Linked DNA regions of Homo sapiens. The protein of the gene in region 1 interacts with the protein of each later gene in a biochemical or structural test. Each region holds a gene or a part of one and is shown in the gene's direction. Other genes may lie near its edges.

Region 1 (3,754 bases):
CGGGAGCACTTGGGCTTCTGTAGGAATGCAATGGTGGAAGCAGGAATGCCAATTTGGTGCTCACTACAAGAATCCGAGAGAGAATGATGTCTTGGACCTGGGTGATAGCATTAGATGAGGTGGGAGATGGCTGGATTTTGTATGTATTTTGATGTGGAACCAACAGAAATTGCTGATGGCGCAAAGATTTGGAGTACTAGTCTGCTAGGGCTGCCATAACCAAAGTACCACAGATTGAGTGGCTCAACAGAAATGAATTGTCTCATAATCCTGGGGGCTAGAAGTCAGACAGCAAGGTGTCAGCAGGGCTCATTTCTTCTGAGGGCCACGAGGGAAGGTTCTGTTCTACGCCCCTCTGCTTGGCTTGTAGATGGCTGTCTTCTCCCTGCCTCTTCACATCATCTTCCCTCTCTCTGTATGTTTTGGAATCCAAACCTCTTCTTTTTATAAGTACACCAGTCATTTTGGATTTGGGCCCATTTTGATGGCCTCAACTTAATCACTTCTGTAAACACTAGATCTTCAAATGTGGTCATAGTCTGAGCTACTGGGGATTAGACTTTAACATATGAATTTTTGGCGGGACACAATTCAGCCCATAACATAGAACATGAGAAAAGTAGAAGAATCCAGGATGACACCAGGATTTTTGACCTGGTGGAGTCATCGTTTGCTGAGATGGGAGGACTCTGGCAGAATATCAGTTCAGTTTGAATATGTTAAATTTGGGATGCCCCATAGATATCCAACTGCAGATGTTGAGTAAGTAGCCAAAAGCTCATATCTGGGGTTTGGCCGAGAGGTTGGAGCTGGAGATACAAATCTGGGGGTCATTGGCATAGAGATGCTATTAAAAGCTAGGAGACTGGGCAAGATGGTGACGGGAGTGAGTGGCGGTATGAAAGAGGATTAAGAACCGAGGCCCAGAGCACTCCTACATTAACAGGTCAAAAGAAGAAAACAAAACTGAGAGGGAGGGTGAGAAGGAGGTTGGGGTACCCCAGGGTGGTGTCCTGGAAGCCAAATGAAGACAATAGTTTACACAAGTGAGGGCAGGAAAGATGAGGATTCATAATTGCCCACTGCAGTTATATCATGAGGTTCACAGACCACTTTGATAAGAGTAGCTTTAATGGAGTATTGAGGCAATGTGAATGTTCAAGAGAGAATCAGAGGAGAGGAATTGGGGAAAACAAACAGTGATAACGTTTCTGAGCAATTTCGCTAAAAGCAGAAGTAGAGAAATGGTAAAGACAGAAACATGTATTTTAATCTGTAATTAATGAATACTAGATTTATGTGCATCAGGGTCATATACAAAAATGTAGCAGTATGTGTCATATATACATATATGTGTATGTGTATGTATATATACATATGTATACATACACATACATATACATACGCATACACATATATACATATATACACATACACATATACATATATACAGGTAGGCACATACTAAATATATAAAATGACCAGATTAGCTAAATGCTGCTACTAAGTATTTTCCTGGGAATGGCAGAAATGACTTCATTGGTAAAAACAACAACTATTTTCTTAGTCAATCCAGTATTAATTTATTGAAAGTTTCTTTATTTACAGGTTTAAGAAGTTTGATGATAAATATCTGCGGAAGCTTTTGATTCGGGAAAACCAACCAAAGTCAAGTATTGTATCTTTATATAAAAAGCTTGAAATAAAACATGCCATTGAGATGGCAGAGACTGGGATGATAAGTACTGTCCCTACATTTGCATCTCTAAAGTAAGTATGGTCTTGCAAATAAAAGTTAGTATTGTTAAATAGGCATTGATAGTATTTTGAAACTGGTAATAATAATTTTAAAAAAATTATTATTAATTGATCCGCCCCCCTCGGCCTCCCAGAGTGCTGGGATTACAGGCATGAGCCACTGTGCCCAGCTGCAAATACTGAATCATTTTTCTATGGGGACATAAAGGTTAGGTTCCTTTGAGCCTGTGGTCACAAAATTTTCATCAGCCAATCAATATGTAACCTATTTTATGTATGTTTATGTTTACAGACACCTTATTTAATATATATTGCTAATTCATTAACATTGAATTGATGGTCAAGAACACTATAAATTCATGTATGATCAAGCTTAGTTAACAAATTTTCTCCATAAGGCACATCACAGGGTTCTTGTGCTTGGGAACTCTAGACAGCACTTCAGCAATGCCTGGGGGCCATTTAAAGCAGCAGAACCACCAATAAATAACATAAAAATATTAAAAAATCATGTCACTAAATAGACTGTGAGAAGGACATTATTTATAGTATGAGAGTGGAAACAAGAAAGCAGATGTCTCCTTGTTCAACATCTTCAGGGAAACTGTGTCAAGTGACTCAAATTTTTTGTCACTCTCCATATGTCTGAGAATAACTGCAAAAATACTGAAATTCTGATATTGGGTTTATAAATCAATATTAGCAAGTAGGTGAGGTGAGTTCATGATTATGGAACCCACAAATGAGGATTGACTGGATATACATACATGTTATAAATGGTGTGTTTGCAAATATTTATGATGAGGTTTTTAAAATATGAAAACTTAATGGTAAATTGAAGTCAATTAGGTTTCTGTTGGAGAAAACTATTCTATTTTACTTTATTTATGGAGTGTTAGAAATAATAAAGTGAGGTAGCATTATAAGCCATTGTAGTTTTTCTTCCCTGAAAACATAATGACATGAATAGATTCTGAAAACTTGTGAATTGTTAAACTTGCCATGAATGATTTTGAAACTGAAATAAGAGTCACAGAATTTGGAATTATTTTAAGTTATTGAATAATCCCTAAGTGCTATTTTTACAAATTAAGACTTGTCTTAAATACTTATATCTCTAAGGAAGAAAATCAATGATTCTAATATTTGTTGAAAGGTAAAATATTCTTTTTCTAAACTTTCACAGTGATTGTCGTGAAGAAAAAATAAGGAAGGTCACGTCCAGTGAAACTGATGAAATTCGAGAACTCTTATCAAGAAATCTCTATCAAATCCGTCAGCGAGTAAGAATAATTTATGTAGCAAAATATTTACTTACCTTTGGCTAACAGGATGCCTTCTGGTTTTGTGCTGTAACTGGAGGCTGCATCTTGACACTGGGCTCAGCAGGTCCCATGCTGGGCATCTTCTCTCCTTCTGCTTCTCTCCATCCCTCTTCAGGGTCCTACTATCCTCCTGGACACCATGGCTGAAGCCTTGGGGTCCCCTGGGAGTTCTGCTGCTGTGGGCTTGGATACAAAGAAATACACGTTGACTAATTTTAAAGAAATGAATTGATTGCTGTTTGTTTTAAAGAAATAGTTTTATAGCTTAGACTTTAAAAATGGACCTCACCCTCCTTGTTATTTATAAAGTGCTATAGTTTCTTCTCTTCTGAGCCACTTCTTTCACTTCGTTTCCATTGTTAGCACCTTATTCTAATAATTTGCTAACAACACAGCTACAGAGTAGAGAGTGTCCTCAATTTTCCAAGCCCCATTTCAGTGTGTTGCATGCATTAACTCATTTAATCCTCCAGTGAGTGGTAGGTGTTACTGTTGTCGCCATTTCACAGATAAAGAAATTGAGGCACAGGGAGGTGAAGTGGCACACGGGCCACACAGCTTGTCAGGAGTCCTCCTTGCTCATGTGGGGGCTGTTTCAGCAGCTTCTTAGCTGGTGTCCCCATAAGGTGTCCCCATTTCATCCACGTGACTCTTACCTGACCCTTTTTCCT
Region 2 (3,754 bases), on another chromosome or scaffold:
GAAAAAAGTAAGGTCAGCATCAAGAGATGGGCTTCAAGGCTGACTGAGAAAAGGGACATTCATGGGGCTGACAAAATTTTCCTATCACAGCCATATTCCAACATACAAAGCAGCTCCAGTGATTTAGCTCTTAGACGGGCATATCCAAAATGTTACTGAGTACAAAGGACAACATCACTAGGTTAGACAAGTGCACGACAATCATAAAAATAACTCTAAGGCCGGGCACGGGGACTCACGCCTGTAATCCCAACACTTTGGGAGGCCGAGGCGGGTGGATCACCTGAGTTCTGGAGTTTGAGACCCGCCTAGACAATATGGTGAAACCCTGTCTCTACTAAAAATACAAAAATTAGCTGGGCGTGGTGGCACGCGCCTGTAATCCCAGCTACTCAGGAGGCTGAGGCATGATAATCCCTTGAACCCGCCTGGAGGTTGCAGTGAGCCGAAAATGCACAGTGATCAGGCCATTGCACTCCAGCCCGGACTCTGTCGCAAAAAAACAAAACAAGCCAGGTGCGGTGGCTCACGCCTGTAATCACAGCACTTTGGGAGGCTGAAGCGGGCAGATCACCTGAGATACGGAGTTCGAGACCAGCCTGACCAACATGGAGAAGCCCTGTCTCTACTAAAAATACAAAATTAGCTGGACACGGTGGCGCATGCCTGTAACCCCAGCTACTAGGGAGTCTGAGGCAGGAGAATCGCTTGAACCCGGGAGGCGGAAGTTTCGGTGAGCTGAGATGGCGCCTTTGCACTTCAGCCTGGGCAGAAGAGCAAAAACTCCGTCTCAAACAACAACAACAACAACAAACAAACAAAACTCTAGTTCTTCAAACTAGAACCTCAGCTTGCAGGGAACGTGTGGGGCCTCAGGCTAAGCTGTAAAGCCTTAGGTAACACTTAAAACTAGTAACTTAAGTTGACCTGGGAAAGCCTGCTACGACAAAAATATCCTGGTACTTGGGTACTAACAGCAGTCAGAATTCGGTTCTTCCTTATCTTATACGTGTTCTAACCAAACAGGTGTGAAGGGGTAAGGCAGGTGAAGCAGTAAGAACTGGTTCACCTGAGAGTAGGCACTAATTTAACGGGTGGCTTTTACCTTTTTTTTTTTTTTTTTTTGAGACGGAGTCTTGCTCTGTCACCCAGGCTGGAGAGCAATGCCGCGATCTCGGCTCACTGCAACCTCCGCCTCCCGGGTTCAAGCGATTCTCCTGCCTCAGCCTCCCGAGTAGCTGGGATTACAGGCACGCGGCACCACACCCGGATAATTTTGTATTTTTATTAGAGATGGGGTTTCTCCATATTGGTCAGGCTGGTCTCGAACTCACGACCTCAGGTGTTCTGCCCACCTCGGCCTCCCAAAGTGCTGGGATTACAGGCGTGAGCCACCGTGCCAGGCCTACCTTTTTAATCAAAACAAACAATACACCATGAGAATAAAATGCAAAATTTCTCATTTTTAAGACAAAATAAGGAACTTCAAATAAATGGCGGACCATAAGCTAGGAATTCACTGTCCTCCATCGTTAGGGCTTTTTCCTCCGAAGGAAGTTTGGGAAATCTGGATCCTAATTTCAGCCAAGTGGTGCGTTCCTCGAACTTCAGTCTAGAACTAAAAGAAGAGGGGCTGCAATGAAGGAAGAAGTCTCGGGACGCTCCACGCCACCCGGCGGCGGTTATCAAATCACAGGCTGAAAACCTGGAGAAAGGTCCGCGACGCCGGGGACACACGCCGCAGAGGCGACGCCCGCCCGGCCCAACGTCCAGTCTCGTCTGTTTCCCGAGGAGCCAATCAGCACGCGGCCCCGAGGCCGGCTCCCCAGCGCCCCCTGCGGCCGGGAGGAGGACGGCAGCCAGGAAAGATGAAGAGCGCGTGCAGTCCCCGAAGGGTACACCCTAGGGTTCCCCCCCACGCGAAGTTTCTCTCCGCAATCCGTGCCACCTATCGAGTAGGATTCCTAGTGTTCGATTCCTGTGAGAAAAGGTAGACTACGCTGCCTGTCGCAGGTTAGTTTGTTGTAAAACTGTTGGTCAATGACGTTGCCCTTTTAATTGCGTCGTTAGCGACCGAGTGGCATCGCCCCTTTAAGGCCGGTGGCAGCTGCGGTTCCGGGGGCGGGGTCCGTCTTCAGCAGGACTTGGGCTGGAGCTGGGCTGATTCATTCGGGGCTGGAACTCGAACGCTGACGTTGGCTCCTGAGCCGGGCGCTGCCTCGCGCCTGATTGGCGGGTCCTCGGGGCCGCCCTCCCCAGCGCACCACCCCTGGGTTCCCTCCCGGGTCCGCAGTGGAAACACTGCCCTCTCCCTTCTTGACCCCTAGCCCTTCCTTCCCTCCCTCCTTCCCTCCTGTCGCCGTCTCTTCTGGCGCCGCTGCTCCCGGAGGAGCTCCCGGCACGGCGATGGGTTCTCGGGCCTCCACGTTACTGCGGGACGAAGAGCTCGAGGAGATCAAGAAGGAGACCGGCTGTGAGTTCGGGTTGGGGGTGGGAACGCCGGGCGCCTCAGGCTGGCCTCACAACCAAGGGCGGCTGTCGCTAAGGTCTGGAGCTCGGGTGCCTGTGAGGTTGGGGGGTCCTGGGCAGCCTCCAGGTTTGGGGACCGAGAGCTGGAAGACCTGTTCTTCCAGCTGCAGCTTCCTGGAGCGGGGCTCTAGCTACTGTGGGGCTGTCCTTCCCTTCAAAATCGGGACTCTTGATCACTCGTAGAGCGTCGACGCCCCCCTTTTCTGCACCCTGCCCATCAAAGTCCCCGAACTCCTTTCCTTTCTGTTGCCTCGCACCACCCTTCCCTATGAAGAGGCATCCTGAACAGTAGGTAAAGCCCGAGAAGCAAATTCAGGAACTCGAGATGGATTCTGTAGAAAATCCGTTTCTGGGTAAGGACCTAAAACCTCTGACAACTATGGGAAATTACAAACAAGTTCTTGTCACAAATTGGGAAAACCACCCAGAAAGCAAGACCGTGTAGTAAGGCTTTGGGAGACATGACCCGATGCCTGGAGACCTTTAAACAATCAGGGGTCTGGGATTGTGAGACTTCTTTCAATCTGAACTTCTAGAGAAAAAACACGGATACTGTGACCACCAGTTTTTTACTTACACGACGATACTTGCTGTCCTAATCTCATATATGTATTGATTTCTACTATGCTGGTGTACTTTTTTATTCGCTATTGAAATTGGATGTGCTCCAAAAATCTCCGTGTGAATTTGTACTAGGAACTGATTTTTTTTTTTTTTTTTTTTGAAACGGAGTCTCCCTCTGTCAACCAGGCTGGAGTGCAGTGGCGTGATCTCGGCACACTGCAACTTCCGCCTCCCAGGTTCAAGCAGTTCTCCTGCCTCAGCCTCCCAGGTAGCTGGGAGTACAGGTGCCTGCCACCACGCTTGGCTAATTTTTGTATTTTTGGTAGAGATGGGGTTTCACTATGTTGGCCCGGCTGGCCTCGAACTCCTGACCTCAAGTGATCCACCCACCTCGGCCTCCCAAAGTGCTGGGATTACAGGTGTGAGCCACCGTGCCCTGCAGAACTGATTTTTTTTTTTATAGTCCAGTCTCTTCCTCATTAGTCTGAACAAAGGAGCAAAAGGACTCGGGATTCTGAAGCGCTGTAAAATACCATCATAACTTTGAATAGTCCTTGATAATGCAATGTATGATACAATTGTATTGATGCATACAATATTTTATCTTTTCAGTAAACCTTTATGATTCTTATTGAGTTAATGAAGGATGTAGCACCTGAGC
Region 3 (3,754 bases), on another chromosome or scaffold:
TGAGGAAGGACACTGTGTGTTACACTCTTTTATTCCTATGGCAGTCTATTGAGCCTTTAAAATAAGGCTCGGCATAGATCATAAGGCTCAGCATAGCTCAGGACAGTATTTACTGAAAACTTCCTAAAGCCAGTGGGGACAGGAAAATACTCTTTATGGCCTCTGAGTCTGGGACCCTTTGAGAACCTGTGTTTGGTGGCTTTACATAGAGTGAACATTTCCCATGAAGACTGTGCTTCATTAGACAAAAACTCTGATTTCTAAACTTTAGGGGAAATATCAGAAGCATCAATCCCTTGAAGCAGAGGTGCAAACAAAATCAAGACTCATGTCTGAACTGGAAAAAACAAGGGAAGAACGATTTACCATGGGTCATTCTGCCCACGAAGAAACGAAGGTATATGTATGGGCCCTTGAAGAAGTTTCCAATTATTGATTATGTTATCAGGGTTTTAACTGATTATATGAGATATAAACCTTGAGTGGCTGGCTTATACCCAGGACTCCTGCCTCTTATCTTCCCCTGGGGTTGAGGCATAAAAAATGATGGGATATCTTCGTGTTTCTTGGGGTGAAGAGAGCTGTGATATTAAAGCTGTCATTAAATGGCATAAAATTCCTCCTATAACAGTGCAGGATAATTTGGCTCAAGATCAAGCCCACTTAAACCTGTTCCACATTATCCAGATCAATTAGTTTTTTCCAATGTTCTTTCTAATTATTTCCTCTAACCTCAATGTCCTTGTCTCTTAACTTCTCCAAATAAGGAATGCTCTCTCATTTGAATGTTTTCCAAAATATTTTTCCTTTGTCTATGATGCCTCTTTCTTTTCATACACCATACCCTATGACTACTATTGCACCTCTCCAAACTGTCCCTTCTTATTACTTCTAAAAACTCCCAAATGTCATGTAGTCAGAAAATTTTCTCTGAACATCTAGAAATGAAGATCATCACTATTTCAATAAGGATTCATACTCTGTAATCTATTATTAATGTAACAGCTATTTTTGGACTTAATCTACGAACTCTTCCAAATGTTTGTGCTAATATTGTCAATTCAATTTTTTTGTGTGTGAGTGAACTTTTTACTGTTTATGTATTTTTTTAATTGTCAAAACAAATTTGCATTATATATCTTAAAACTGGGTCTGGCCTTTCTATATATAGCATAAAAATTCTAGCCCATTCTGTCATCAAAATATGGTCAACGGACACAGATTTTAGCCAGAATAGAATCTTATTTTAAAGAAGAACCCATAAAAGGAAAATTTCAAAACTTGTTTATTTGTATAAAGTATAATTAACTTTTGTATTATGCACAGTTTTGCATGTAACCAGCATCTACATTAATTACAATATTTGAGAAATGTTTGAAACATCTTCATTTCTGTCAGAATCACTGGGGCTATAGCAAATGGTACCATTGCGGGGTTTAACGACATATGTGGTCCACATGCTACCCAGAGCAATGGAGTAGTTGAAAAATATAAGATTCTTGAAGATATGACATAGGTGGCAATTTCAGTTATATAAGACAGGTAATACATAATGTTCTGAGTTAATCTGGCATTCAAAGCCCTCTGTAGATTCTCAAACTGTATAGTCCCAAAACACTGTTATTGTTTCGGTGCCAATGATTTCCTTATAACTTATAAAAATTATAGCTCTCACACTTTCTGGCAGACAATTCATGCTAAGTTTCTCCTATGCCTTTGCTATTGCTGTTTGCTCTTCTTAGAACATGTTATGCTTATGATTGACCTGTCAAAAATCTTTCTGCTCCATAAGGCTCAGTTCAAATGAACACTTTTCCATGCTTTCTTCCTCCTTCCCATCTTATTGTTTGTAATTATTCCATCCTTTAAAACTGCAAAGCATTTTTACAAATTGTTCTCTTATGTAAGATCGCATTTGGCTTGGCTTGTTAGCTATTTCCATATATCTATCCTATTTCCTCTTTTAAATGTTTGTTGAGCAACTAATGCATGAGTAACTGAGAGAAGAATTTTTATCCAGGTCTCTTTCTGCACAAGTCTCTGAGTGTTTCCCTGCTCCCAGTGTCTGTGGCTGAGTGGTTTTGCCCCTCTTTCCTAAAGGCCCATATAGAGGAGCTACGCCACCTGTGGGACCTGCTGTTAGAGCTGACCCTGGAGAAGGGTGACCAGTTGCTGCGGGCCCTGAAGTTCCAGCAGTATGTACAGGAGTGTGCTGACATCTTAGAGTGGATTGGAGACAAGGTATCGAACTTAAAACAGCAATCACACAGGGCCTCCCACTCCTCTGTCCCAGGTACCCCATAGCAAATTACTGCAGACTACTCACAAGGAAGTCAGGATGTCTGTTCCTGGCTTTGTTCTTTGGAACAAGAGGAAATTGGGGCCAAAATGTAGGGGTATCTGGAGGTCAACATTGTATGGAAGTAAGTCTTAACATATGGATCTGAATATGAAAAAGGCAAGACTTACACAAAGACCATGCATTGAAAGATAATTAGGCTCATCTCTCTTCCACTTCCATGATTTTTAACTCCTTCTCCTATGTTTTTGCTCTTACTCTGGGGTCTGGCTGAGAGTATTGACAGCTCTTTCTCTAATCCTTTGTGTCTCAGTGCCTATAAAGATGGAGGGTTTTATTTTTCTAAATACTAAAGGAATAATTTAATAGTTAGGACTAAAGATTTAGATAAGCAAATGCCTAACAAAATACTTTCGTAGATACTGATATGTTGAATTGAGTAGAAACAGGATGAATTTATCCCTCATGTTTCAAAACACAAAAGGGTACTTTCAGGGTCTCTTGCCAGTAATGCCACAAACTTGCTAAAGAACTGCCCGAAAGAGCACTTTCCCTTGTGCCAAGGTGCTACCTTAACAAATATACTTCTGCTGCTGGCCTTTTCCAGGAGAGCTTCTCCCAGTCTCCCCCAGTATCTCCATTTGAGTTATCCTGGGAATGCAAGCAGGAGTTTTGAGTTTTTGACCTACAGAAACTCCTAAATGTTTGCTGGCAACTCAATCAACTTCTGTGTCTACAGGAGGCTATAGCGACATCAGTGGAGCTAGGTGAAGACTGGGAGCGCACCGAAGTTCTGCATAAGAAATTTGAAGACTTCCAAGTGGAGCTGGTAGCTAAAGAAGGGAGAGTTGTTGAAGTGAACCAATATGCCAATGAGTGTGCCGAGGTGAGGTGGGAGCAAAATATTCACTCCGTGCAAAGGGTTCTTATCCTTAAGAATAACTTCTGGCCATTAGTAGATGGATATGAAGGAGATGGGGCATTGTGAGAAAACAGAGGTTGGCATGTTCCTGGAGTAACATATTCTGAACAGTTTCCTCTCCCCTCTGGACCCACCCCTTACAAGTCTATTGAAATGGAGGGTTGAGAGAGAAAGAGAGAGTGTGTTTTTGTGTGTTTGGAGAAATTAAATACACAATGGGCAGTGAAGCTATTGCCATTTATATAGTAGCTTCTGTACCATGCAGTACACTGATTACTCATGTTAATGGGGCACTCTTTCTTCATGAAAAAACACAAAAATAAAGTAGCAGAGCATATAAAATAATGTTGAGCTATCATTATTTATACATATATATGCATATGTAATATCATTATACAAGATTATTTCGGAGGATTGAGGAAGGAAAGGAAGCGGTTTTACTTTTATTTACTTAAGAAAATACTTAAGTTTGTGATGTGTATATATATATAAGTTTACATGTATATGTAAGTATATAGATGTAAAATAAATAA

The links.
Region 2: the proteins of SLC9A2 (region 1) and CHP1 form a complex in vitro, tested with the Homo sapiens proteins (one study listed by BioGRID).
Region 3: the proteins of SLC9A2 (region 1) and SPTA1 form a complex in vitro, tested with the Homo sapiens proteins (one study listed by BioGRID).

The regions. Positions count from the first base shown.
Region 1 is NC_000002.12:102,699,462-102,703,215, forward strand, and holds part of SLC9A2 (sodium/hydrogen exchanger 2 precursor), read left to right. Parts: intron 1-1,608; coding exon 1,609-1,770; intron 1,771-2,944; coding exon 2,945-3,041; exon of another isoform or gene 3,042-3,266; intron 3,267-3,754.
Region 2 is NC_000015.10:41,228,977-41,232,730, forward strand, and holds the start of CHP1 (calcineurin B homologous protein 1), read left to right. Parts: upstream 1-2,291; 5' UTR 2,292-2,406; coding exon 2,407-2,473; intron 2,474-3,754. UniProt on the Homo sapiens protein: Calcium-binding protein involved in different processes such as regulation of vesicular trafficking, plasma membrane Na(+)/H(+) exchanger and gene transcription. Involved in the constitutive exocytic membrane traffic.
Region 3 is NC_000001.11:158,680,014-158,683,767, reverse strand, and holds part of SPTA1 (spectrin alpha chain, erythrocytic 1), read left to right. Parts: intron 1-271; coding exon 272-397; intron 398-2,100; coding exon 2,101-2,241; intron 2,242-3,038; coding exon 3,039-3,185; intron 3,186-3,754.